Linked DNA regions of Homo sapiens. The protein of the gene in region 7 purifies or fractionates together with the protein of the main gene of each other region. This does not show direct contact. Each region holds a gene or a part of one and is shown on either strand. Other genes may lie near its edges. The genes, in order: TKT, SOD2, PRDX6, CENPV, DSTN, HEXB and SOD1.

What was found.
Region 1: the proteins of SOD1 (region 7) and TKT purify together in Homo sapiens (affinity purification with mass spectrometry; 3 studies listed by BioGRID, with this or other methods). This does not show direct contact.
Region 2: the proteins of SOD1 (region 7) and SOD2 fractionate together in Homo sapiens (co-fractionation; 2 studies listed by BioGRID). This does not show direct contact.
Region 3: the proteins of SOD1 (region 7) and PRDX6 purify together in Homo sapiens (affinity purification with mass spectrometry; 2 studies listed by BioGRID, with this or other methods). This does not show direct contact.
Region 4: the proteins of SOD1 (region 7) and CENPV purify together in Homo sapiens (affinity purification with mass spectrometry; 2 studies listed by BioGRID and IntAct, with this or other methods). This does not show direct contact.
Region 5: the proteins of SOD1 (region 7) and DSTN purify together in Homo sapiens (affinity purification with mass spectrometry; 2 studies listed by BioGRID, with this or other methods). This does not show direct contact.
Region 6: the proteins of SOD1 (region 7) and HEXB purify together in Homo sapiens (affinity purification with mass spectrometry; 3 studies listed by BioGRID and IntAct, with this or other methods). This does not show direct contact.

Annotation. Positions count from the first base shown.
Region 1 is NC_000003.12:53,249,523-53,253,022, forward strand, and holds part of TKT (transketolase), read right to left. Parts: intron 1-3,500. UniProt on the Homo sapiens protein: Catalyzes the transfer of a two-carbon ketol group from a ketose donor to an aldose acceptor, via a covalent intermediate with the cofactor thiamine pyrophosphate.
Region 2 is NC_000006.12:159,669,242-159,672,741, forward strand, and holds part of SOD2 (superoxide dismutase [Mn], mitochondrial isoform A precursor), read right to left. Parts: 3' UTR 1-3,500. UniProt on the Homo sapiens protein: Destroys superoxide anion radicals which are normally produced within the cells and which are toxic to biological systems.
Region 3 is NC_000001.11:173,480,335-173,483,834, reverse strand, and holds part of PRDX6 (peroxiredoxin-6), read right to left. Parts: intron 2,510-3,500; coding exon 2,353-2,509; intron 1-2,352. UniProt on the Homo sapiens protein: Thiol-specific peroxidase that catalyzes the reduction of hydrogen peroxide and organic hydroperoxides to water and alcohols, respectively. Can reduce H(2)O(2) and short chain organic, fatty acid, and phospholipid hydroperoxides.
Region 4 is NC_000017.11:16,343,470-16,346,969, forward strand, and holds part of CENPV (centromere protein V), read right to left. Parts: intron 1,243-3,500; coding exon 1,128-1,242; intron 1-1,127. UniProt on the Homo sapiens protein: Required for distribution of pericentromeric heterochromatin in interphase nuclei and for centromere formation and organization, chromosome alignment and cytokinesis.
Region 5 is NC_000020.11:17,594,075-17,597,574, reverse strand, and holds part of DSTN (destrin), read right to left. Parts: intron 1-3,500. UniProt on the Homo sapiens protein: Actin-depolymerizing protein. Severs actin filaments (F-actin) and binds to actin monomers (G-actin). Acts in a pH-independent manner.
Region 6 is NC_000005.10:74,688,233-74,691,732, forward strand, and holds part of HEXB (beta-hexosaminidase subunit beta isoform 1 preproprotein), read left to right. Parts: intron 1-1,095; coding exon 1,096-1,241; intron 1,242-3,500. UniProt on the Homo sapiens protein: Hydrolyzes the non-reducing end N-acetyl-D-hexosamine and/or sulfated N-acetyl-D-hexosamine of glycoconjugates, such as the oligosaccharide moieties from proteins and neutral glycolipids, or from certain mucopolysaccharides.
Region 7 is NC_000021.9:31,662,693-31,666,061, reverse strand, and holds part of SOD1 (superoxide dismutase [Cu-Zn]), read right to left. Parts: intron 2,273-3,369; coding exon 2,176-2,272; intron 1,757-2,175; exon of another isoform or gene 1,580-1,756; intron 1-1,579. UniProt on the Homo sapiens protein: Destroys radicals which are normally produced within the cells and which are toxic to biological systems.

The DNA.
Region 1 (3,500 bases), on a different chromosome or scaffold from region 7:
AGTGAGCCAAGATCGCCGCCCCACTGCACTCCAGCCTGGGTGACAGAGCGAGACTCTGTCAAACAAACAAATAAATGAAGAAAAAGGTGCTAGGAGAGCTCAGTAGAGGAAGTTCTTGGGCGTCCACACTTCCCTTCCAGCTGTGTAGTCCTCGGAGATTCCACCCAGTGCACAAATGCAACTGACTTCTGAGCAACCCCCATCTGCAGGTGGGCTCACCCCAGCTCCCAGCACATCCTCTCTCCCCTACCTTGCCTCTCCATTCAGGGCAGGAGCAGAGCCTGCCTGAGGACCTAGCTCTGTGCAGGTCCCTGACCTCTAGAAGTGTCCCCAGCACCCAGGGCAAACTGGTCTGTGGCAAGAAGGGAGTTCCTGATTTTGTGGAACTAGGCGACAGTGACAACAAGCCTGCCACAAGAGACAATGAATGTTGAGGGGTCAGAGCCACAACAGGGGCCGGACATCAGTTAGAGTCCATAGGAAGCCACGACAAAGTCTCAGCCAGATCCTAACTAGGTGCTGTACTTCACTTCCAGTTTCTTAAAACACCGACCACCAGCCCTGCAGAGGAGAGGTCACTCGGGCAGAGAACCAAGCCACCCCAGGGTGGCCAGTGTCTTCACACTGAGTGAGGAAATGCTGCTGCTGGGGCAATCTCAACGGTCATGCTCTTGCCTCAGTCAGGGCCAGGATGGGTCCTGAGGCAGCCCAAAAACAGAAACAGGCCCAGAGAGGCGGAGCCACATGGGGCCAGAGACCCCAGGAGGCCCTCAAGCCTTCAGCCAAAGCACCTGGATGTCAGAGCTGGGTAAACTGGGATACAACCCCAGCCACTTTAAGGGCACAAAGAGCACCAGGATGTAAAATCAGCAACAGCGGGCGGTGGGACCCCGGAGCCCACTCACTCCATCCCCAGCCCTACTCCTGAGGCACCCAGTTTGAAACCACCTATCCATGAACCTCTCCTTTCAAGATGGAGAAAATGGCCTGTAATCCCAGTACTCTAGGGAAGCTGAGGCAGGTGGATCGCTTAAGCCCAGGAGTTTGAGACCAGCCTGGGCAAAATGACAAAACCTCAACTCTACAAAAAATACAAAAATTAGCCAAGGCATAGTGGCTCATGCCTGTGGTCCCAGCTACTTGTGAGGCTGAGATGAGGGCATCATTTGAGCCCAGGAGGCGGAGGCTGCAGTGAGCAGAGATCACGCCACAGCATTCTAGCCTGGGCAACTGAGAACCTGAGATAGGAAGGTTTTTTTGTTTTGTTTTGTTTTTTTAAGAGCCAGGGTTTCACTGTTGCCCAGGCTGGAGTGCAGAGCCATGATCATAACTCACTGCAGCCTTGAACTCCTGGGCTCAAGTGATCCTCACACCTCAGCCTCCCAAGTAGCTGGGACTACAGGCACATGCACAGCTCTTTCTTTTTTTTGTAGAGATGAGGTCTCACTATGTTGCCCAGTTTGGTCCTGAACTCCCAGGCTCAAGCAATCCTCCCACCCTGGCCTCCCAAAGTGCTGTGAATACAGGCATGAGCCACCGCACCTGGCCGGAAGGGCCTTTCTGACAAAGGCACAGCCACTAGGAACAGAGCCAGGGTTGGACTCATCTCCTGTGTCCACCAGCCAGGACTGGCCAGGCATTAACCTCCCCAAAGCTGTGGGTCAGAAACCCTGGGGGGACTTGTTGAAAGCACAGACCACCTTCCCTTTTGAATCAGGCCTGACTGTGATGGAGTCCTCAGATGACACTTGCACTGTTTGGATAACACCACAGTCTGGCCCTGGTGAGAACTGAGAAATCTTTGCCACCAGCCTCAGCATCCAGGCCACTTCTGACAAGGCCACTGGGGTTTTGTTTTTTTAAAGCCAGGATGAGCTGGACCCTTGCCATAATTCCTTCAGCCCATGGAAGGAGATGACCCCAGAGAAGCTCTAGCCACTGTGGGCGCTGCCTCAACAAAGAGCCTTCTGTGAGGTCTGTCCCTTCACCTCCAGGCCCAACTCCTGACAGAGGCCAGTGTCCCTGCTTCCTGGGCCTGGTGAGGTTCACTGCACACGGGTCAGCAATGGCATAGGAATGGGAAAGCTATCGAGAAACGAGCCTGGGTCCTCACAGAATGTACAAATCCTGTCTCAGTAAGTGGCCAGCAAAAGATTGGACCAAAGCTAGACATGGTAGCACATGTCTGTGGTCCCAGCTACCCAGGAGGGTGAGGCAGGATTGCTATAGCCTAGGAGTTCAAGACTGCAGGGAGCCATGACTGTGCCTCTGTACTCCAGACCTGGTGGGTGACACAGCAAGACCCTGTCTTAAAAAAAAAGAAAAAAGGAAAAGGGGCCAGGAGCGGTGGCTCACGCCTATAATCCCAGCACTTTGGGAGGCCGAGGCGGGCGGATCACCTGAGGTCAGGAGTTCAAGACCAACCTCAACATGGAGAAACCCCGTCTCTACGGGGTAAAAATACAAAATTAGCCGGGCGTGGTGGTGCATGCCTGTAATCCCAGCTACTTGGGAGGCTGAGGCAGGAGAATTGCTTGAACCTGGGAGGCGGAGTTTGTGGTGAGCCAAGATCGCACCATTGCACTCCAGCCTGGGCAACAAGAGTGAAACTCCATCTCAAAAGAAAAAGAACTGGATCAAAGTCCTGTGAGCTCCCCCAGAAAAGGGGACATTCTGACAAACTGTCACTTTAGCTGTGACTACAGCCCAGATTGGGCCAGGGCTTCCGGACTGAGCCTTCACTCTATGCCTCATTGCAGAGAGGGAACAGTGGGCCTCAAGATAAACATCTGGGGACAAGAAACAGAAGACTACCTGTGTCTCAAGTCTTCCTTGATTAGCTTTTGGGTGCAAACACACACATACTCTTGGCTCACAACTTTCAAAATATGGGTTGCATAGCAACGTTATTTCCTTCTGAAAAATAAGTTTTCCCTCCTTTTTTGCATATTTTAAACATATACATACACACACACAGTCACTGTATTTTACATATCCTTTTTTTCTTTTGCAAATGGATATTTTTTGAGTTCAGTGAGCTTCCCTCTCCAAGACATTACAATGTAAACATGGTGTAACTCTCGGACACCACAGTATGTTTCCGGAGGGGTAACGGCGGTGAGGAAATCAGACTTTGCCTAACAAAGAACTAGGAGACACACTTGACATTCCACTCTTTTGGAGCACCCTACATTTGTAAATCTTATTTCTCTCCAAGTGCCTTTCAGACTGACTAATATCCACCGCGGCTGTACCTGGCCTTCCCTTTCACCTTTTTCACCATTCTCCAGCCTGGCACAGACTGCTTGCCCAAGAGGCATTCTTTTTTTTTTTTGAGAAGAAGTTTCAATTTTGTTGCCCAGGCCAGAGTGCAATGGTGCAATCTCAGCTCACCGCAACTTCTGCCTCCCGGGTTCAAGTGATTCTCCTGCCTCAGCCTCCTGAGTAGCTGGGATTACAGGCGCCCGCCACCACGTCCAGCTAATTTTTTGTATTTTTAG
Region 2 (3,500 bases), on a different chromosome or scaffold from region 7:
TCCATGTGCTGATGAAAAGAACGTGTGTTCTGCAGCTATTAGAGTGTTCTGCACCTATTAGAATGTTCTGTAAATGTCAGGTCCATTTGGTGTAAAGTGCAATTTAAATCCAATATTTATTGGTTTTATGTCTAGAAAATCTGTCCAATGCTGAGAGTAGAGTGAAGTCCTCAACTACTATTGTATTAGAGTCTATTTCTCCCTTTAAATCTAATAATATTTGCTTTATATCTGGGTCATCCAGTGTGGGGTACATATATATTTATAATGATAATATCCTCAGGCCTGGCACAGTGGCTCATGCCTATAATCCCAGCACCTTAGGAGGCCAAAGCAGGAGGACTGCTTTGAGACCCAGAGTTTGAGACTAGCCAGGCAACATAGCATAACCCCATCTCTACAAAAAAATTTTCTTAATAAAAAAATATGATTATATCTTGCATGAATTGATCCTTGTTTCATTACATAATGACTTTTCTTTTTACAGTTTTTGACTTAAAGTCTATTTTATCTCATGTAAGTATAGTTATTTCTGCTCTTTTTTGGCTTCCATTTGTATGCAATATCTTTCTCCATACCTTCACTTTTGGCCTGTCTTTACAGGTGAGGTTTCTTGTAGGCAGCATACAGTCGAGTCATGATGGTGGTTTTTAATCCATTCAGTCAATCTATATCTTTTAAGTGGGAGAATTTAATCCATTTACATTCAAAGTTATCATCAATAGAGGTGCAGACTTTTTAAACAAATCTCTTCCCAGGAGAATCACTTGTTTTTTGAGAGACAGGATCTCTTTCACCCAGACTGGAGTGCAGTGTAGACTCACACTGTAATCACAGCTCACTGTAGACTCCAACTCATGACCTCAAGGGATCCTCCCAACTCAGCCTCTCAAGTAGCTGGGACTATAGGGATGTGCCAGCATGCCCAGCTAAATTTTAACTTTCTGTAGAGATGGGGTCTTGCTTTGTTGCCCAGGCTGGTCTCAAACTCCTGGACTCAAGAGATCCTCCTGCGTTGGCCTCCCAAAGCACAGAGATTACAAGTATAGGCCACCACACTCAGCCTTGATAGGTGAAGACTTACTTGTGTCATTTTTTAAATTGTTTTCTGGTAAAAATGCTAACAGTAACTAGGAGCTAAAAGATTCATTTGTTTTTTTCCTCCAGGCATCCACTCTGAGCCCCAGTGAAGAATGGTGGCAGCTGTAAGCACTACCAGCAAGTATACCCTACTGGTTGGAGAACTTTGTTTAAAGGATATAAGTTGTGTGCCTTCTGTAAATGACGATTTAATAATATCAATATCCATTTATCCTCTATAATCATAGTCAATACACAGAGAAAACCAAAAAATGCCAGACTTGGGTTGGGTTCCAAGATGGCCGAATAGGAACAGCTCCAGTCTACAGCTCCCAGCGTGAGCGACGCAGAAGACAGGTGATTTCTGCACTTCCAACTGAGGTACCAGGTTCATCTCACTGGGGCTTGTTGGACAGTGGGTGTAGGACGGTGGGTGCAGCCCACTGAGCATGAGCTGAAGCAGGGCAAGGCATGGCCTCACCCGGGAAGGCAAGGGGTCAGGGAATTCCCTTTCCTAGCCAAGGGAAGCTGTGACAGACGGCACCTGGAAAATTGGGTCACTCCCACCCTAATACTGCGTTTTTCCAATGGTCTTAGCAAACGGCACACCAGGAGATTATATCCTGTGCCTAGCTCGGAGGGTCCCACGCCCATGGAGCCTTGCTCATTGCTAGCACAGCAGTCTGAGATCGAACTGCAAGGTGGCAGTGAGGCTAGGGGAGGGGAGCCCACCATTGCTGAGGCTTCAGTAGGTAAATAAAGCAGCCGGGAAGCTCGAACTAGGTGGAGCCCACTGCAGCTCAAGGAGGCCTGCCTGCCTGCCTCTGTAGACTCCACCTCTGGGGGCATGGCATAGCCGAACAAAAGGCAGCAGAAATCTCTGCAGACTTCAATGTCCCTGTCTGACAGCTTTGAAGAGACCAGTGGTTCTCCCAGCACAGAGTTTGAGATCTGAGAACGGAGAGACTGCCTCCTCAAGTGAGTCCCTGACCCCCGAGTAGCCTAACTGGGAGGCACCCCCAAGTAGGGGCAGACTGACACCCCACATGGCCGGGTACCCCTCTGAGATGAAGCTTCCAGAGGAATGATCAGGCAGCAACATTTGCTGTTCAGCAATATTCGCTGTTCTACAGCCTCCACTGTGATACCCAGGCAAACAGGGTCTGGCGTGGACGTCCAGCAAACTCCAACAGACCTGCAGCTGGCGGTCCTGACTGTTAGAAGGAAAACTAACAAACAGAAAGGACATCCACACCAAAACCCCATCTGCACATCACCATCACCAAAGACCAAAGGTAGATAAAACCACAAAGATGGGGAAAAAACAGAGCAGAAAAGCTGAAAATTCTAAAAATCAGAGCGCCTCTCCCCCTCCAAAGGAACATAGCTCCTTGCCAGCAACAGAACAAAGCTGGACGGAGAATGACTTTGACGAGTTGAGAGAAGAAGGCTTCAGATGATCAAACTTCTCCAAGCTAAAAGAGGAAGTTCGAACCCATCACAAAGAACCTAAAAACCTTGAAAAAAGATTAGACAAATGGCTAACTAGAATAACCAGCATAGAGAAGTCCTTAAATGACCTGATGGAGCTGAAAACCATGGCATGAGAACTACGTGACGAATGCACAAGCTTCAGTAGCCAATTCGATCAACTGGAAGAAAGGTTATCAGTGATTGAAGATCAGATGAATGAAATGAAGTGAGAAGAGAAGTTAAGAGAAAAAAGAGTAAAAAGAAACGAACAAAGCTTCCAAGAAATATGGGACTATGTGAAAAGACCAAATCTACGTCTGATTGGTGTACCTGAAAGTGACGGGGAGAATGGAACCAAGCTGGAAAACACTCTGCAGGATATTATCCAGGAGAACTTCCCCAATCTAGCAAGGGAGGACAACATTCAAATTCAGGAAATACAGAGAACGCCACAAAGATACTCCTCGAGAAGAGCAACTCCAAGACACATAATTGTCAGATTCACCAAAGTTGAAATGAAGGAAAAAATGTTAAGGGCAGCCAGAGAGAAAGGTCGGGTTACCCACAAAGGGAAGCCCATCAGACTAACAGCTGATCTCTCAGCAGAAACTCTACAAGCCAGAAGAGAGTGGGGGTCAATATTCAACGTTCTTGAAGAAAAGAATTTTCAACCCAGAATTTCATATCCAGCCAAACTAAGCTTCATAAGTGAAGGAGAAATAAAATCCTTTACAAACAAGCAAATGCTGAGAGATTTTGTCACCACCAGGCCTGCCTTACAAGAGCTCCTGAAGGAAGCACTAAACATGGAATGGAACAACCAGTATCAGCCACTGCAAAAACATGCCAAATTGTAAAGACCATTGAGGCTAGGAAGAAACTGCATCAACTAACGAGCAAAATAACCAGTGAACATCCTAGTGACAGGATCAAATTCACACATAACA
Region 3 (3,500 bases), on a different chromosome or scaffold from region 7:
CACTGTGCCCGGCCAGGAACGATATTAATGAAACATGTGGGCAACTCTGTACATAAACTATTGATAGGAGAGTGAGGAACTTAGTTGGATAGAGTTTAGCAAGTAATGGAAAAGAGGATTTAAAATTGGAATAACGTCTATTGTGTGTAGGCTTGAAAGTAAAACAGGGGCTTGATGGCATAGCAGATACAAAACCATTGTGGATTTCTCAACGGAGATGTGACAAATGTGGCATTAATGAGCTCTGAAGTGGATAACAACAAATTCTTTTTATTTATTTATTTTTTTGAGGTGGAGTCTCTGTTGCCCAGGCTGGAGTGCAGTGGCGCGATCTCAGCTCACTGCAGCCTCCACCTCTCGGGTTCAAGCCATTCTCCTGCCTCAGGCTCCCGGATGATAACAAATTGTAACATTCCTTCATTTTATTATCTTAACTTTCTGTTGTCACTGGCTGCTTATGAAGTCACCAGAGCTAAATAATAATTAATATAGTCTCATGCTAGAGGCAGATTATTATATAATCAGTTGTTTGTCAAAGTTGCGGCACTGCTTCTGATAGTTCAGACTTTTTTCCTATTCAATGTAATCACAATTCTGAAAACTTCTAAGGCAGAAGCTCAGCAGGTAAAATAAACCTGAGTATGCGTCTGTCCTTTAAAAGGTATTATATAATGGGCTATAACCGCTTCCTTTGGCAATATGTCACTTTAATTATTGCTGTGCACTAATTCTCTACTCTGCCACTTGCATCATGGGCATTAGATTACACCCATGAACACCAAAGAACCTATCCTAAATTATTTGGCTTTATTCTATCCTAAATTAGGCTAAATCCTACTCTTTATCATCTTGCATTAAAAAGAACATTGATTTGAGGTTGAAATCTCATTGCCATTGGGCAGTCTTGGGCAAGTCCCTCCAACTCTCTGAGTGAAAAAAGTATGTTCAACTGCAAAAACGAAAATGAAAAATGATAGCAAAAACTACAGTTACCACTCACTGAGAAGTGTAAGGAATGAAAAAAAATTCTACTTCAAGACAGATAACTGCCCTTCTTTTTTCTCCTACACATGATTCTTCTAGTCTCAGATATTTAGGATTAACTGGCATTAACTGCTATAGGATGCAGCCACAGACCCCTAACTCACAAGTCAATACATCTTTTATTCAACTGCACGTTTGACATAGTTTCTAGTATACATCCCTCAAAAAGTAGTTATCATTATTACTTAACAGCACAGTGCAGTCAAGTTCTTAAAATGTTTTCAAGGTAAATTCAGACCACCAAATTTACTGTTCAAGTAAATTCTTTTGCTAGAAGTAGGTATTTCCTTCAGTTAATTCATTCAACAAATATTGACTGATCGCCTAGGATATACTGAGTAGTGAGCATTGTTCCAGCAGTGCACTAAACAGGAGTCTCTGTTCCTGCTGAGTTTATACTCTACTAGGAAGAAACAAACAAACTAAATAGGTAGTATGCAGAGTGCTGAGGAGAAGGGGATGGTGAACGTGAAAAGGAGTTATAATTTTAGATAATGAGGACAAGAAAGGCTTTGATGAAATGTCCTGTGAGTTGAGACCCAAAAGAGGTGAGGGTAAGTCACACAGATCCCTGGGAAGTGAGTCTTCTATCTATGATACAGGACATATTTTGAAGGTAGAGCTGACAAGTTTGAGGATAAATCAGATGTATGATGTGAAAAAACATGAAGAATTCAGAATGGCTCCTGGATTTGGGGTGTGAACAACTATAAAAATGTAGTTGCCATTAGCTTAGATGAGTAAAACTCTGGATCTAAGAATGAGGCCTAGTTAGACATGCTAGGTTTGAGATGACTGGACATCCCAGGAGAGATGCTAGGTAGGCAGTGGTTATATGAACCTGGAAGAGTCTGGCATAGAGATGAAAATTTGAGAATCACAGCACATAGATGGTATTTAAAGGTGAGTGGATGAGCTCACCAAGGGAAAGAGTGCAGACAGAAAAGAGATGAGGTCCAAGAAATAAGTTCAGGGTAACTTCAGCATAAATTAGGAGTTGGGAGATGAAGAATCAGTGAGCAGGAACAGCTAGAATGTGGTGTCCTGGAAGTCAAGAAAGGAAAAAGTTTCAGGAGGTACAGTGATCAGCTGGGTTGAATGCTGCTGGCAGGCCAAGAGGAGGGCTGAGAATTGACTGACCAATGGATTTAGCAATGTGATCACTGTGTGGTTCAACTGAAATTTTCAAATAATTAGTGAACTTTGAACCTAAGGCTTACTTGTACCTTAACCTCAAAACCAAGTACTCCATAATTTATAACTTGACCTATAATCTCAGGCTCAAAGCACATGCCAATTGATACTAACCTTGCTCCAGGCAAGATGGTCCTCAACACTGTCTATTGAAAGGGCAATCAACTTAACATTCCTCTTGGCAAATTCTGGTGCCAGCTTTGCAGCTCTGCCAAGCTCTGTGGTGCACACTGGGGTAAAGTCCCGAGGGTGGGAGAAGAGAATGCCCCATCTGAAAGGAAGAAAAACAAGGTCACAATTGAATTAAGAGTTATCACCAACATCACAGAGAATGAAAAGTCACAACTTCTGGATCAAAAACAGGCTTTCTTTTTTAAATGAATGCTTATGATGATATTTACTTTTAAGCTTTTCTGTTGAGGAGTGCTTTTCAATCTACTTACCTCCAGAGAAGCCTATGCTTATAGCCCAATTCAATCAAAGACATGAAATTCAAGATGACACATATTTAAAAAGACTAATGTTAAGGTGTTGCCTCCTTTAATAATTATGGTGCCACCCTGACTCCTTTTTGGCTAATACAATCTGTGCTATTCAAGCCAAGTAGTTCACTGAAAACACTTAATTATTTCTTCTTATCCTTTTCTACATTTTTTTCTAGCATAGACCCTGACATTCAGCTCCAATAATGGATGTCCCAGTATGCCCTGAATCCAAACAAATGCCTGACTGCAATAATAAACAAATTATGTAATCTGAAATAAATAGGTTTCTATCTTCTATTTATATGTAAAAATTAAAGTTGACACTTGGCTTCTCTGAAGCAAGTGGATATAAAATCTTTTGTAAAACCACTTTACTGATCTTACCTGCCAAACATGACACCCAATATTTATACTCTGACAAAACAATAGCACCTTCACAGTTTTACCTATCTCTTCATTTGCAGTTTCTTTTTCTTCTTTCTTCAGACCAAGCAGGTAGAATTTTGATAGCCTGCAATGTAGATTTCTACAACAGCAAATTCTTAGGTAAATACTAATATCTAAGTCATCATTGTCTAAGATTTTATAATTTTGAGCACATTTCAAGCTGTCACGAAGAAAGCTGAAGTACCATTTCCTTCTTCTTGGCAACAGAAACTACTCTTTCAACTGAAAAGGAAAATTTAACACTCAGTTCTCCACATCCCCATCAACTTAAACCATCCTAAACCAGATGATTTAGGCAGGATCCTAAACTAGTAGATAACTAAATCTAGC
Region 4 (3,500 bases), on a different chromosome or scaffold from region 7:
ATACAGGCGTGCGCCACCAAGCCTGGCTAATTTTGCATTTTTAGTAAAGATGGGGTTTCTCCATGTTGGTTAGGCTGGTCTCGAACTCCCGACCTCAGGTGAGCCACCATGCCTGGCCTCAGATAGATAACTTTCTAAGAATTAAATGTCTTCCCATTTGCACAGGATTTCATACTTTTCAACTCTTTCCTGTTCTGCAAGGTAGACAGGAAGGAGTCTCCATGTGACAGATGAGGAACAGGAGGCCCTGAAGCAATGGGGGAGCGGTAAGGATGACATCCTGCCCTGCCCTGCCTCCCCCACCTCCCCTGTCCGCTCCCCACCACCATAAGGCAAAAGACACTGACAGTCATAGCTGCTCTCGCAGCTCTGGAGGCTGCACTGACACAACAAGAGTCCTCAGAACATCTTCCACCTCTGCTTTCCCCTTCAATTCACACTATAGTTGGTATGATTCTCAACAACTGTCAGAGGGTTAGTTTTATTACTCCCCAGACCCAAGCAGGCCCTGAAGCGGGGCTTGGAGGGTTCCCTGCTTGTTTATTATTTTTTAAAAAGAACAGAGATACGGTTTTGCTATGTTTCCCAGGCTGGTCTCAAACTCCTGAGCTCAAGAAATCCTCCCACCTTGGCCTCCCAAAGTGCTGGGATACAGGTGTGAGCCACCGCAGCCAGCCAGTCCTGCCTAATTTTTGAACAACCAAAAAGCTTTCAAATGCCATTATCAATGCTCCCCAATCTTGCCTCCTTCACTCCCTTAACCCCTGTCATTATTAAAGCTGCCTCCCCTGGCCCCACAAGCCCATCTCCTCACCCCTCTCCTCCCTACCCTTCAACACCATCCCCAGCAACACCAGCTCTACCAGCACCAGTGAATAAGAATCACAACCTGGATGGGCTCCAAGTCCAACTTCACCACATTCAGATATGGGATTCAGAAAAGTTTCACCGGAGCCCGACTCACATTCTATCATGTGGAAAGCGCTCTGCTGAGGAGCCCTGTTCCTCTAAGATACGCATGTGACAGGGTCTAGTCAGCATCCCACCTGTCCAAATAAGACTTTAAATGAGAGCACCATGGGCCTCTCTGTGTCCCCCTGAGCTTGCAGTCCATCCCCTTTACTCACCGAAGCCTCCGGGGTTTGATCGTGGAGTATAGAAGCTCTGAACGCCACATCTCTTACAGAAGGTATGCTGGGCTTTGTGAGTATTGAACGTGTAAGTCGTTATGTGCTCAGCTCCCTAGGTGAAAACAGACAAACGGTATTCTTTTTTACAAAGAGATTTATTTATTTAATTTATTTATTTATTTATTTATTGAGACAGAGTCTCCCACTGTCTCTCAGGCTGGAGTGCAGTGGCGCAATCTTGGCTCACTGCAACCTCCACCTGCATGGGTTCAAGAGATTTTCCTGCCTCAGCCTCCCAAGTAGCTGGGATTATAGGCGCGTGCCCCCATGCCCAGCTAATTTTTTGTATTTTTAGTACAGACAGGGTTTCACCATGTTGGCCAGGTTGGTCTCGAACTCCTGACCTCATGATTCACCCACCTTGGCCTCCCAAAGTGCTGGGATTACAGGTGTGAGCCACTGCGCCTGGCCCCAAAGACATTTATTTTTATGTCACTTAAAAAATACACCTTTGTAGCCGGGTGTGGTGGCAGGCGCCTGTAGTCCCAGCTACTCGGGAGGCTGAGGCAGGAGAATGGCATGAACCTGGAAGGCCGAGCTTGCAGTGAGCCGAGATCATGCCACGGCACTCCAGCCTGGGCAACAGAGCGAGACTCCGTCTCAAAAAAAAAAAAAAAAAAAACACCTTTGGCCAGGCATGGTGGCTCATGCCTGTAATCCCAACACTTTGAGGCCGAGGCAGGCGGATTGCTTGAGCCCAGGAGTTCAAGACCAACCTGGGCAACATGGCAAAACCCTGTTTCTACAAAAAAATATAAAAATTAGCCAGGTGCAGTGGCACACATCTGTAGTCCCAGCTACCTGGGAGGCTGAGGTAGGAGCATCAGTTGAGCCTGGGGAAGTAGAGGCTGCAGTGGGCTGAGATCGCACCATTAAAAAAAAAAATCTTGAAATAACTTAATGGCAGGAGCTCTTCTGTAGGGCTCTTTGTACTAAGAGGCCATTTCCTATCTCCAGAAGAGACTGGGACCTTCTTGAGGACAGAGACCCATCTACACTATCCAGAGACATGTCAGTCTGGAGCGTGACAGCTCACAGCTTCCCTTAGGTCAACGGCATACAGAATTCAGCCTTGAGCCTTCCCTGATACATCACATCAGGGAGGGAAAGTGCTTGCTTCCCAGGGCCTATGTGGAGAGACAGTTCACCCAAGGGACTGGCTCTCCATGTCCCCAAACAGAACGGCTCAAGGTCTTAAGAAAACTGATGGCTGTGCTTAATTTATCCACAAAGGACAAACCAGGAAAAAAATATTTGCCAGACGTCATAGACAGGCTAATTTCCTTAATGGATAATACAAACGGGAGACTGGACAAAGGACATGAACGGACAGTTCAGATAGAAAGAAAAATAAATCACTCTTTAGCCTATGAAATGCTCACCAAAGGAACTTCAATGAGATGTATTTCACTGTCAGGTGGGCAAAATCAAAGCCGTTAACATGGTATTGACAAGTATGTAGAGAAATATGTGCTCACATATATCAGTCACAGGAACAGGAATTGGTACAATTTAGCAACATCTACCAAAATTTTAAAGTGTACATATGCTTTAGCACACAATTCCATTTCTTGAAATTTATTATACAGATATATTCCAAATGTCTCAATGACATAGGTATATAGATACTATAGCACTGTTTATGAAGGCTAAAGATTGGAAAAATTGAAAATGTCCCTCAATAGAGGACCGGTTAGGCATTATGGACACTCATAAAATGAAATATTCTCCAACTTTTGAGAAGAATGAGACAGCTCTACAAAACTAACATGGAACAATTGCCAAAGTTACAAAGTAAAGCAAGGTATAGGCCAGGCGCAGTGGCTCACGCCTGTAATCCCAGCACTTTGGGAGGCCAAGGTGGGCAGATCACTTGAGGTCAGGAGTTCAAGACCAGCCTGGCCAACATGGTGAAACCCTGTCTGTACTAAAAATGTAAAAATTAGCCAGATGTGGTGGCGGGCACCTGTAGTCCCAGCTACTCAGGAGGCTGAAGCAGGAGAATCACTTGAGCCTGGGAGGCGGAGGTTACAGTGAGCCGAGATCACACCACTGCACTCCAGCCTGGGCAACAGAGTGAGACTGTCTCAAAAAAAAAGTTAAGCAAGGTATAAAACAACGTACGTGGTATGCTACCATTTCTTTTTTTTTTTTTAAGGCTATATACTGGTATGTGTGGTGTTTTTGTTTTGTTTTGTTTTGTTTTTTTGAGACAAGATCTCACTCTGTTATCCAGGCTGGAGTGCAGTGGTATGACGACAGCTTACTGCAGCCTTGACCTCCCAGGATCAAGTGATTCTCCCACCTCAG
Region 5 (3,500 bases), on a different chromosome or scaffold from region 7:
TGTATGTTATTCGGGTGATGGATACCCTAAAAGATCTGGCTTCACTGCTACCATCCATGCATGTAGCAAAATTACACTTGTACCCCCATACATTTATACAAACAAATAAAAATAAAGTTGTCACTTTAAAACACATGCAAGAATCCTGGGAGAAAGATACACTAAGATCCTAGCATTTACTTAATATTAAGGTAACTGGGCTATTTCATCATCTCATTCATTAAAGATCTCTAAATAACACACTCCAATGCCATCTACTCCACATTTTCTGTTCATAAATGAACATTCACTCTAATAAAGTGGCAGAAACAGAAAATTAGGACTAGAAAACTCATAAGTACACAATATTACCACATTCCTAATTTTAAAAAGCACTTTTCTTAAACCTTTTACTGCTTTAGGAGTAGCATATTTCTGATCTTTACAACGTATCTTATGTTAAGCAAGTTAAGAATCTCCATTTTGCAACAGATGAATAAAATGTTCAAAGCAACAAAAATTGAAGAACTAGAAACAGATCCCAATCCCTCTAACTCCCTAGTCCATAATGTTGAAGTCACATTTGACCCAACAAGCAATTTCTAAAAGCAGGAAGGCAACATCTAAAGCCTTATATTCAATCAACCAATCTTTAAATACATCAATCAATATCTAAGCATCTCAAACATTCTAAATTCTGATTTGTAAATTAAATCAATGATGTACTAGTAATCAAAAACAAAGTAAATGTGCATTCTGCAATTATAAAACAGATAAATCTCAGCCAAATCTGGCTGTAACTTACAAGCTCCTTAAAAGCCTCAGTAAGGAAGAATTTTGTCTTTTTTTCTATCAGAAGTGATGTCTGTGGAGGTTTCTTATACCATTAGACACTTGTGCTTGAGGAAATTAACACTGAATACTTGAAGGAGAAACTGGCACAGAAACTGGAAGCAGAAAACCAATTTTGACACAATTACAAATATTCAGAGAAGAAAGCTCTGAACTACAGCAGTGAGGTTAAAAACAGAAAAATTCAAGGACATGTCAAAGTCAAACCAATATAGCTGAATGAGACACAAAAGAGTGGTATCAGAGAAGCCCCAGGATTCTCTCGATTAGTGACTAGACTGCAATATATGAACAGAAAAGGAAATATGGCACAGTACGACACATCCACTCTGAAGACTGTGCAAGACATCTAGGTGGAGATGACCAGACAGTGGCAGAAATATGAGCACGGATCTCGTTGGAAGGCTTCACCTAATCCATATTTTGGACTAGCCCACACCATGGGGTCACCAACATTAAGCAGCAAAAGAAAAACCAATCTAGTTTCTCACCACTGAGTACGTAAAAATTAAAAAGAGAAACCCATCAAGGACACTAAAAAGAGGTAATCAGAAAACTAAGAAGAAAAAGAAGGAAGAAAGCAGCATCTTAGAAGCAAGGGAGAATATTTTGAGGAGGAAAGTCATCAACAGCCAATTCTGCAGTATTTCAGAGAATGAAAACAGATCGCTGGGCTTGGCAATTGGGCCTCTGAACATTTCAACAGATGGGAGAAATGGGACAGAAGTCAACCATAATGGACTGGGGACCCATGGGGAATTGAAGAGGTAAAGACAGAAAACATAAGATGGTTAACAATGAAGAAAAAAGGGAAGATTGAATGGTACTTCATGCAAGTTGTCTTATGATTGGGGAGATGTAACTGTTCTAGATATTTAAGAACTTGAAGGAATAAAGAGGAAGAGCCAAAACATTAAAAAAAAATTAAAACATACACTGAGTACTTACTATTGCTAGACACTTCTAAATCACAACAATTCTATGAGACAGCTACTATCACTATTTGCATCTTAAAGATGCATAGCAAAATTAAATAATTTGCCCAGGGTCACAGAGTAAACAATAGAGGAATTGGGATTTGAACTCTGGCAATTTGGCTCCAGAGGAGATTTTTTTTTTTTTTCCAGATGGACGTTCGCTCTTGTCATCCAGGCTGGAGTGCAATGGCACCATCTCGGCTCACTGCAACCTCTGCCTCCTGGGTTCAAGCAATTCCAGAGGAGATAATCTTAATCACTCATAAAATTAACAATATCAGAGATCTAAAGAAATGGGTAAGATCCACAGCACAGATGGGAGAGTTAGCCTAAGAAAAAGATACACATTTTTTTCTCTGAAACAGGGAGGAAGGGAAAATGACAGTTTTGAGGTGGAAGGAAGATACACTGCCAAAAATTGTGTCTGAAAGATTCTATTTTCTCTGTGAAGTATAAGGCAGGAGGAGTAGGATGGGTTTGAGGGCACTCCTCCAATCTACTACTACTAACAATTCAGAACAGCTATGACGGGGAGTTCCAAAAGGAACTACCTAAGGACAAGAAAAAGGGCTCTGGGGACCTCCAAAAGGTCAGCTGAGGTCAAGGGGTGAGGGTGGTAGGACAATGCAGTGGAAAGCAGAGGCTGATGGCAGTGTGGAAGGAAAGGACGAACTCTGCATTCTTCCTCAGAGAGTTTACCCAAGCTCAAGCTTTCAATCATCTAAGCCAAAACTTAGTTCAGACTTCTGCTCTTCTGAGCTTCTAGTCTTTACATTCAACTTCCTATCTCACATCTCCAGTTGTGTGTCTCAAAGGCATGTGATGCACAACATGTCTAAAATAAAAAACAAGCTGGTCCATTTCTAACCAGTCTTCCTTTCTCAGTAGCTATCACCACCCTCCTAGTCACATAAGGCTCCAAGCCTAAGAGATGTTCTTAGCAACTCCTCCATTATCTTACTCTTTGGATTTTCATCTTTCTCTGATACATTCATCTCATTTCACCCTCAGTCCAAGCTTCCATTGCCTCTTACTTGGACTGCAGTAACTCCTCAAGTGGCTGCAGAGGAGGGAGATTAGGATATGTATACATCATACTGTTTTCTCTTCTTGGCTGAACAGGAAAGACTGCATTCCCCAGCCTTCCTGGCAAGCTGAGTTGGCTGTATGACTGAGTTCTGAACAGCCATTTGAGTTCTGAACAGCCAAGCTGGGCCCAGTTATGTAAACTACTTCCAGTCCTGGCCCTTTAAAAGTGATCTTTAAATACACTAAATACAGCTTTTTAGATGTGAATCCTACCACAATAAAATGATTTTTAAAACATCAAAAATTAAATAAAAGTTAAATAAAAGTGATCTTAAAGCTCTGTTTTCTCCCACCAAGATGACCTTGGTAAGCATACTTCATGATAGGAGAAGGCTGCCCAACCCTTCTGGACTCTGCGTGACAGAGACAAATCTTTACTGTGTTAAGTCACTGAGATTTTGAATTTAATTTGTTATTGCAGTTCTAATACAACAAGACTGCCCATACCAACTGCCCATCACCTTTACCCTCCAATTCATCCTCTACATAAACATGAATCTGATCACCATACTTAGAACAGTCCAGTGGCTTTCCATTGATCTGAAGGTAAAAAATAGCTATTTATTTATTTATTTATTTATTTATTTATTTATTTTTGAGATA
Region 6 (3,500 bases), on a different chromosome or scaffold from region 7:
TGTATTTAATATTAATATTAATATTTAATGCCTTTACAATATTTAATGCCTTTACAGAATTTTTATTTAATATTCTCTGATTTTTGGATACCAACAAAAGGTACTTTTTTTTTTTTTGAGATGGAGTCTCGTTCTGTCACCCAGGCTGGAGTGCAGTGGTGCGATCTTGGCTCACTGCTGCAACCTCCACCTCCCGGGTCCAAGCAGTTCTCCTGCCTCAGCCTCCTGAGTAGCTGGGATTACAGGCGCCTGCCACCATACCCAGCTGATTGTTTGTATTTTTAGTAGAGACTGTGTATTTTTAGTTTCACTATGTGGGCCGGGCTGGTCTTGAACTCCTGACCTCGTGATCCTCCCGCCTTGGCCTCCCAAAGTGCTGGGATTACAGGCATGAGCCACTGCAGCTGGCCAACAAAAAGTAAATTTTAAAGGCTCTGGTGAGAATTCTGGACCTTCTTTTGGGGCTTTATATGTAAGCTAGGATACTTTTGCAGGAAGGTAACAGGAACTCTGACTCAATCTGGCTCAAACAATAGGAAAACTTATTTCACACATTAGGATGTCCAAAAGTAGGGATGAATTTAGGGCAAGTTGACCAAGTGGCTCAACAGTGTTACCAGGGATCCATATTCTTTCCATCTCTGCTCTGTCCACTTTAGTGTAGTGGCAACTAGTCCAGCTCTCACATACAGAGAAACGAAGTTTTCTTGTGATTTGCTCAGAACTCCCCCTAACCCCCACATCCTATCACTGGTCAGAATTGGTTTTTCATTCCCAAGAGTGATGGATTACCATGATGGTTTCATTATTGGTTCTTAACGGGGCTTCATATGTCACTTCAGAGTGTGGGGAAGCATTTAAAATTCCCATGCCTGAATCCCATTCTAATAGATTCTGATTCTGAAGGCATGGACGTTGGGATTTTCAAAAAACTTCCCAAGTGATTCTAATGTACAGCTTGGGGTGAGAATCTCTAGTTGGACTTACAATGGGCAGCATGGATTTGAGGAGTTAACTACAATGTTACTAGCACATCTGTTTTAAAAATTTGGCTAAAATCCTTCTAAAATGTGTTTACATTTATTTCTCAAACAGATATCATGGCTATATTTTTGGTTTCTACAAGTGGCATCATGAACCTGCTGAATTCCAGGCTAAAACCCAGGTTCAGCAACTTCTTGTCTCAATCACCCTTCAGTCAGAGTGTGATGCTTTCCCCAACATATCTTCAGATGAGTCTTGTAAGTACCTATGCAATGTGAGTGTATTATATCCCAGGTGCTCGCTGACGGACTTAAGTGCCAAAAACTGACTCCATGCTAGGAACCACTGAGTTCTCAACCAGTGAGTTTATGATTCCTATTTTAAAAATAACCTTTAAAGTCTGATTATAAAAGTAGTACATAGTCTTTGTGGAAAATTTATTAAGTACAGTAAGTGCAGAAGAAGAAATAAATCACTCATAATCCCAGCAGATAGAATTAATCACTGTCATTTTAGGTGTATTTTTTTGCAGAGTAAAACATGTAAACATTTTACATAGACATAAATACAAACATGATAAGCATTGACATGAAAATGGCAGTAATTCTGTACATGTGCTTCTTGTATTTTTGTTGTATTTTTATATCATGCTTTTTTGCAAAATACATTATAAATTAAACATGAATTTCACTAGTTTTCTGTGATATCATTTTCAATGGCTGAATAATGTTCTGTCACTATATGGATGAGCTGACTTGGGTAATCTCTTTTGGACATCTAGGTAATTTCTTAACTTTTTGTCTTTGAAAACATCTGTATCCATGATCTCTATTTATAATCTAATTTTACAGAAAGATAATGCAGAGCTAGGGGAGAGGGTGGGTACAGCAGTTTCATTTGTAATCTGCTGTACAATATAATCAACATTTAGCTGTATGATTTTGTCCTCGTTGTTGCCTAAAACGTTATTCTCTAGGGCTTTTCCCAAATTGTTTTAGAACAAATAAGTGGGCGTGCCATTTCTATAGGGTATACTGCCTGAGAATAATGTGGAATTGCACCAAGGAATCAAAGAAGGGCAGTATAAGGACATGTGTAATATAAGATTCGTGCAAGAAAGAGCAGACAGGGGAACTAAGTGTAAAGATAGAGGCTGGACGCTGTGGCTCATACCTGTAATCCCAGCACTTTGGGAGGCTGAGGTGGGTGGATCACTTAAGGCCAGGAGTTCAAGACCAGCCTGGCCAATATGCTGAAACTGCATCCCTACTAAAAAATACAAAAAGTTAGCCAAGCGTGTTGGTGCGTACCTGTAATCCCAGCTACTCGGGAGGCTGAGGCAGGAGAATCACTTGAACCCAGGAGGCAGAGGTTGCAGTGAGCTGCAATCATGCCGCTGCACTCCAGCCTGGGGGACAGAGTGAGACAGTCTCAAAAAAAAAAAAAAAAAAAAAAAAAAAAAAAAAAAAAAAAAAAAAAAAAAGATAGGATGCCACAAATTTAGAGAAAAGAGCAACTCCATTACCCCCAGACTGCCTCACAGTTAAGTACATGTCTTCATCCTGCTGGTTTAGATGAGATTTCTCAATAATACATCTCTTTGAAAAAAAGCTTTCTTTCTCTTCAATTCCATAGCTGTTCTTAGAAGAGAAATAGGAAAATTCACCAACATCAGGTATCATTTCAATTGATACTCAGCACTCAGACACCATGTGAAGTAGGTTTTGCAACCTGAATTGAGATGGAAATGGTCATTACGTTGCCAAGGAATCTTTGCTGTCCATTGGCAATACAGATAACAGATTGTAAATTCCACAAAATGAAATGTATCGAGACTAGAGAGTCATAGCTTATCTTTCAGTCAGTTCTACAAACCCTCTTTATTCTGAAAGGGAAGTTTCTTGAGACAAGGTTATTGTGAAATTTTCAGCTGAAGAATAAACTAGTTTTTAGTCTTTAAACTAGTTGATGATGATGATAAAAGTAACACATATGAATGGAAATAACAAGATATCAAATGTCCAGAGTGGGAGGACATGTTGGAGGAGGTGACACATGTTAAAGCACCACTATTTATTAAAAATAAAAATATGCATGCCCTGAGAAGTGGACTAGTTTTTACTGCAGATAAATGGACACATAAATCAAGGATGTTTGATGCAGTTTGCCTGTAATGTGAAGAACTGTCAATAAAACTCAATGTCCATCAATAGAGGAATGGCTAAATACATCTTGTCAATCTATACTAAACAGTATAATCACAACAGTTAAGAATAAAGAAGCAGTATTACTGAGAACACACATGGAGAACTGACAAGATAAACTGCTGAGTTGAACAAAGGAAGCTGTATAATTATGTGTAGAGGTGGACCCTGTTTATATATCAACACACGTGCAGGAACACACGCATAAAGCAATACTATATTTTCTCCTTCCGTGTACATCTATGTCAAGCCTAAGAAAATGCCCGATAAGTATTTCCTCTGAGGAAGGTAGAGGGAGTTAGGTGAGTATCT
Region 7 (3,369 bases):
AGGCAGAGGTTGCAGTGAGCTGAGATCGCACCACTGCACTCCAGCCTGGGCAACAGAGCAAGACTCCATCTCAAAAAAAAAAAAAAAAAAACCCCACCAAGTTCTAACTACTGTCTGACACTTGTAAAGTTAACACCCTTCTCTGGGCTTTGGCTTCTTCACTGTAAAAATAAGGGACCAGACTGATCTTCAACAGTTTTTCTATTATTAAAATCCCATGGTTATGATCCAAATTCTTAAGAACGTAGTATACTTTACAAAAAACTCATCTCCCCAGCAACATATGCCAAGCAGTTCTATCTGTGCCCTTTACTTGGTGCAGGCAGAATATTCAACAGCATCTTATGTGCAAGGGCCAAGGCTGCTGCCTTACACAACTCGAGGGGGCGGCATTCCAACTGTATCCTGTGTAGAAGGTGCTGCTGTGCACCAGGGGATGACATTCACAGAGCACAACCTCGACAGCACAGGAGGCCCTTTCATAACACGGCTGTCTTCAGCCACGCTCTCACCCGCAGGAGTCCCACACAGGGAGAAAGGCAGGCAAGTTACAGGAAGCAGCAGAGCAATCACCTCCCAGACCAGAGGCGGTAAAGCCAAAAAGCAACTCGGGGGAATTTCAGCAATTACAGAAATGGATCAAATCTGATCATTACAAATCACTATTTGAAACTAAATTAGCAAGATGAATAAAGTTAATTTAAGAAGAAATCTATAAACAAAAAAATCAGATTATTACTCAAATATGGCAAAAGATCACTAAATGCAACTTAACTCATAAACTTCTGTTAACTTGCTTCCAATCCCAAATTAAGAAAATAAAATTTGGCAGTTTCTCTGAACCTACTCTGGTTCAGGGGTTGCCTGATTTTTTAAAAATACTTTAAAAAAATTTTTTTTAAGCATATTCCAAAGTACCAATAATCCTCTGCATTCCATCTTCAGTTTGTATCATACTTTGGTCCCACTAAGAAGCCTGTGTTTGGGGTGTAGAGCTACTCTTACATGGCATTATGCAAATAAATGCAGCCCCTTTGCTCGAGGCACCCACCCTCAACCCCCAGCTCAAACACCTGGGATCATTACAAAAGTTAAGAGCCCAAGTTTTTATTTCCTATTTGCCTTCTTTAAAAAACACCCTCTTCTGGCTGGGTGCGGTGGCTCATGCCTGTAATCCCAGCACTTTGGGAGGCTGAGACAGGCGGATCACGAGGTCAGGAGAGAGACCATCTTGGCTAACACAGTGAAACCCCGTCTCTACTAAAAATACAAAAAATTAGCCAGGCGGGGTGGCGGGCACCTGTAGTCCCAGCTACTCAGGGGGCTGAGGCAGGAGAATGGCATGAACCCGGGAGGCGGAGCTTGCAGTGAGCCGAGATCGCGCCACTGCACTCCAGCCTGGGCCACAGAGTAAGACTCCGTCTCAAAAAACAAACAAACAAAAAAACACCCTCTTCTACAATGATGCTGTAAGACAAAACATCAACTCTTTCCCTTTCTTTTCCACACCTAGGTATCAAAGCCCAGTTTTGTGGCTAATCTTAAGGTTGATCTTCTTCTCTTTTTTTGGTTTCTAAAGACACACTACACCAAATCTTAAGACAAAGGGCACTGGACCTTCAGAAGCAGGTCCACCCCAGTCTTCACAATCTAGTGCAGTTACTTTTCTTGTGTGTACTCTGCTGGCATTATTACAAAAATCAGGATATGGTCCCAGTTCCTGCAATTTTAGCACAGTGCTTATATACAATAAAGTTGACCTCTTTTTTAAAAGAAAAGTTGAGGGTTTTCCCAGGCACAGTGGCTCACACATGTAATCCCAGCACTTTGGGAGGTCGAGGAGGATAGACCACTTGAGCCCAGCAGTTCAAGACCAGCCTGGGCAACATGATGAAACCCCACCTCTAGAAAAAAATACAAAAATTAGCCAGGCGTGGTGGTGTGTACCTGTAGTCCCAGCTACGGGCCAAGGCATGAGGATCAATGGAGCCTGGGAGGTCAAGGCTAAGGTCAGCCATGATCGCACAGCGCCACTGCACTCCAGCCTGAGCGACAGAGCAAGACCCTTTCTCAAAAACAAAAACAAGTTGAGGGGTTTTAACGTTTAGGGGCTACTCTACTGTTTATCTAACTAGGGTGAACAAGTATGGGTCACCAGCACAGCACAACACCCACCTGCTGTATTATCTCCAAACTCATGAACATGGAATCCATGCAGGCCTTCAGTCAGTCCTTTAATGCTTCCCCACACCTTCACTGGTCCATTACTTTCCTTTAAGAAAAGTGCAAAGTTGGAGAGAGTTTCTGAACAAAGAAAACAGCTGATTTACCTTTACCCCTCACAGTGAAGTAAAAAGCAGCCAGACTTGGGAGTGGAAAAATCTGTGTCCAAATCCCAGGCTGACCACTTTCTAGCCAGTGAACCTCCAGCAAGCTGCTTAACTGCTCTAGGCCTGTGTCCTCAAAAGGGAGATGGTAATCTTGTTCCCACACTCAATGCACAAGCACCCTGTGGCCAGGCTTCATGATTAAATAACATAAAAAGCACCTAATAGAGTGGCAAGCAAAGTGAGTACCTACACATCAGTGTTAGATACTTCATAGGCTTTGACTATTACAGTAAATAGGTAATGTAAGTACCTATTTATGTAGTAAATACTTTTGAATAGGTTATATTTGTACATGTTGAATATACATGTACATGTAAACGTTTTTTATTTTGAGACAAGAGTCTCGCTCTGTCGCCCAGGCTGGAGTGCAGTGGCATGATCTCAGCTCACTGCAAGCTCCGCCTCCCGGGTTCACGCCATTCTCCTGCCTCAGCCTTTTTAACCCAAAAGGTGTATGTCTCATCCTACACTCTGGAGCCCCTTGCTTTTTCTCCACGCACACCCTTTTCCATATGGCATACTCACTTGACTTTAAAAAAAAAAAAAGAAAAAGTCGCCCTGGAAATGTCCAACAGGCTACCCTGGGACCCCTGCTCTCCACTCCCCACTCAGTGAGTGTTTTTAAGTGTCCATCATAAGTTTTTTTCTTTTTTTTTTTGAGACGAGTCTCGCTCTGTCGCCCAGGCTGGAGTGCAGTGACATGATCTCGGCTCACTGCAAGCTCCGCCTCCCAGGTTCATGCCATTCTCCTGCCTCAGCCTCCTGAGTAGCTGGGACTACAGGCGCCCACCACCACACCCGGCTAATTTTTTTGCATTTTTAGTAGAGACGGGGTTTCACCGTGTTAGCCAGGATGGTCTCCATCTGCTGACCTCGTGATCCACCCGTCTCGGCCTCCCAAAGTGCTGGGATTACAGGCGTAAGCCACCACGCCCGGCTATCACAGGTATTTTTAATTAGCAGTCAGAAAATATTATAT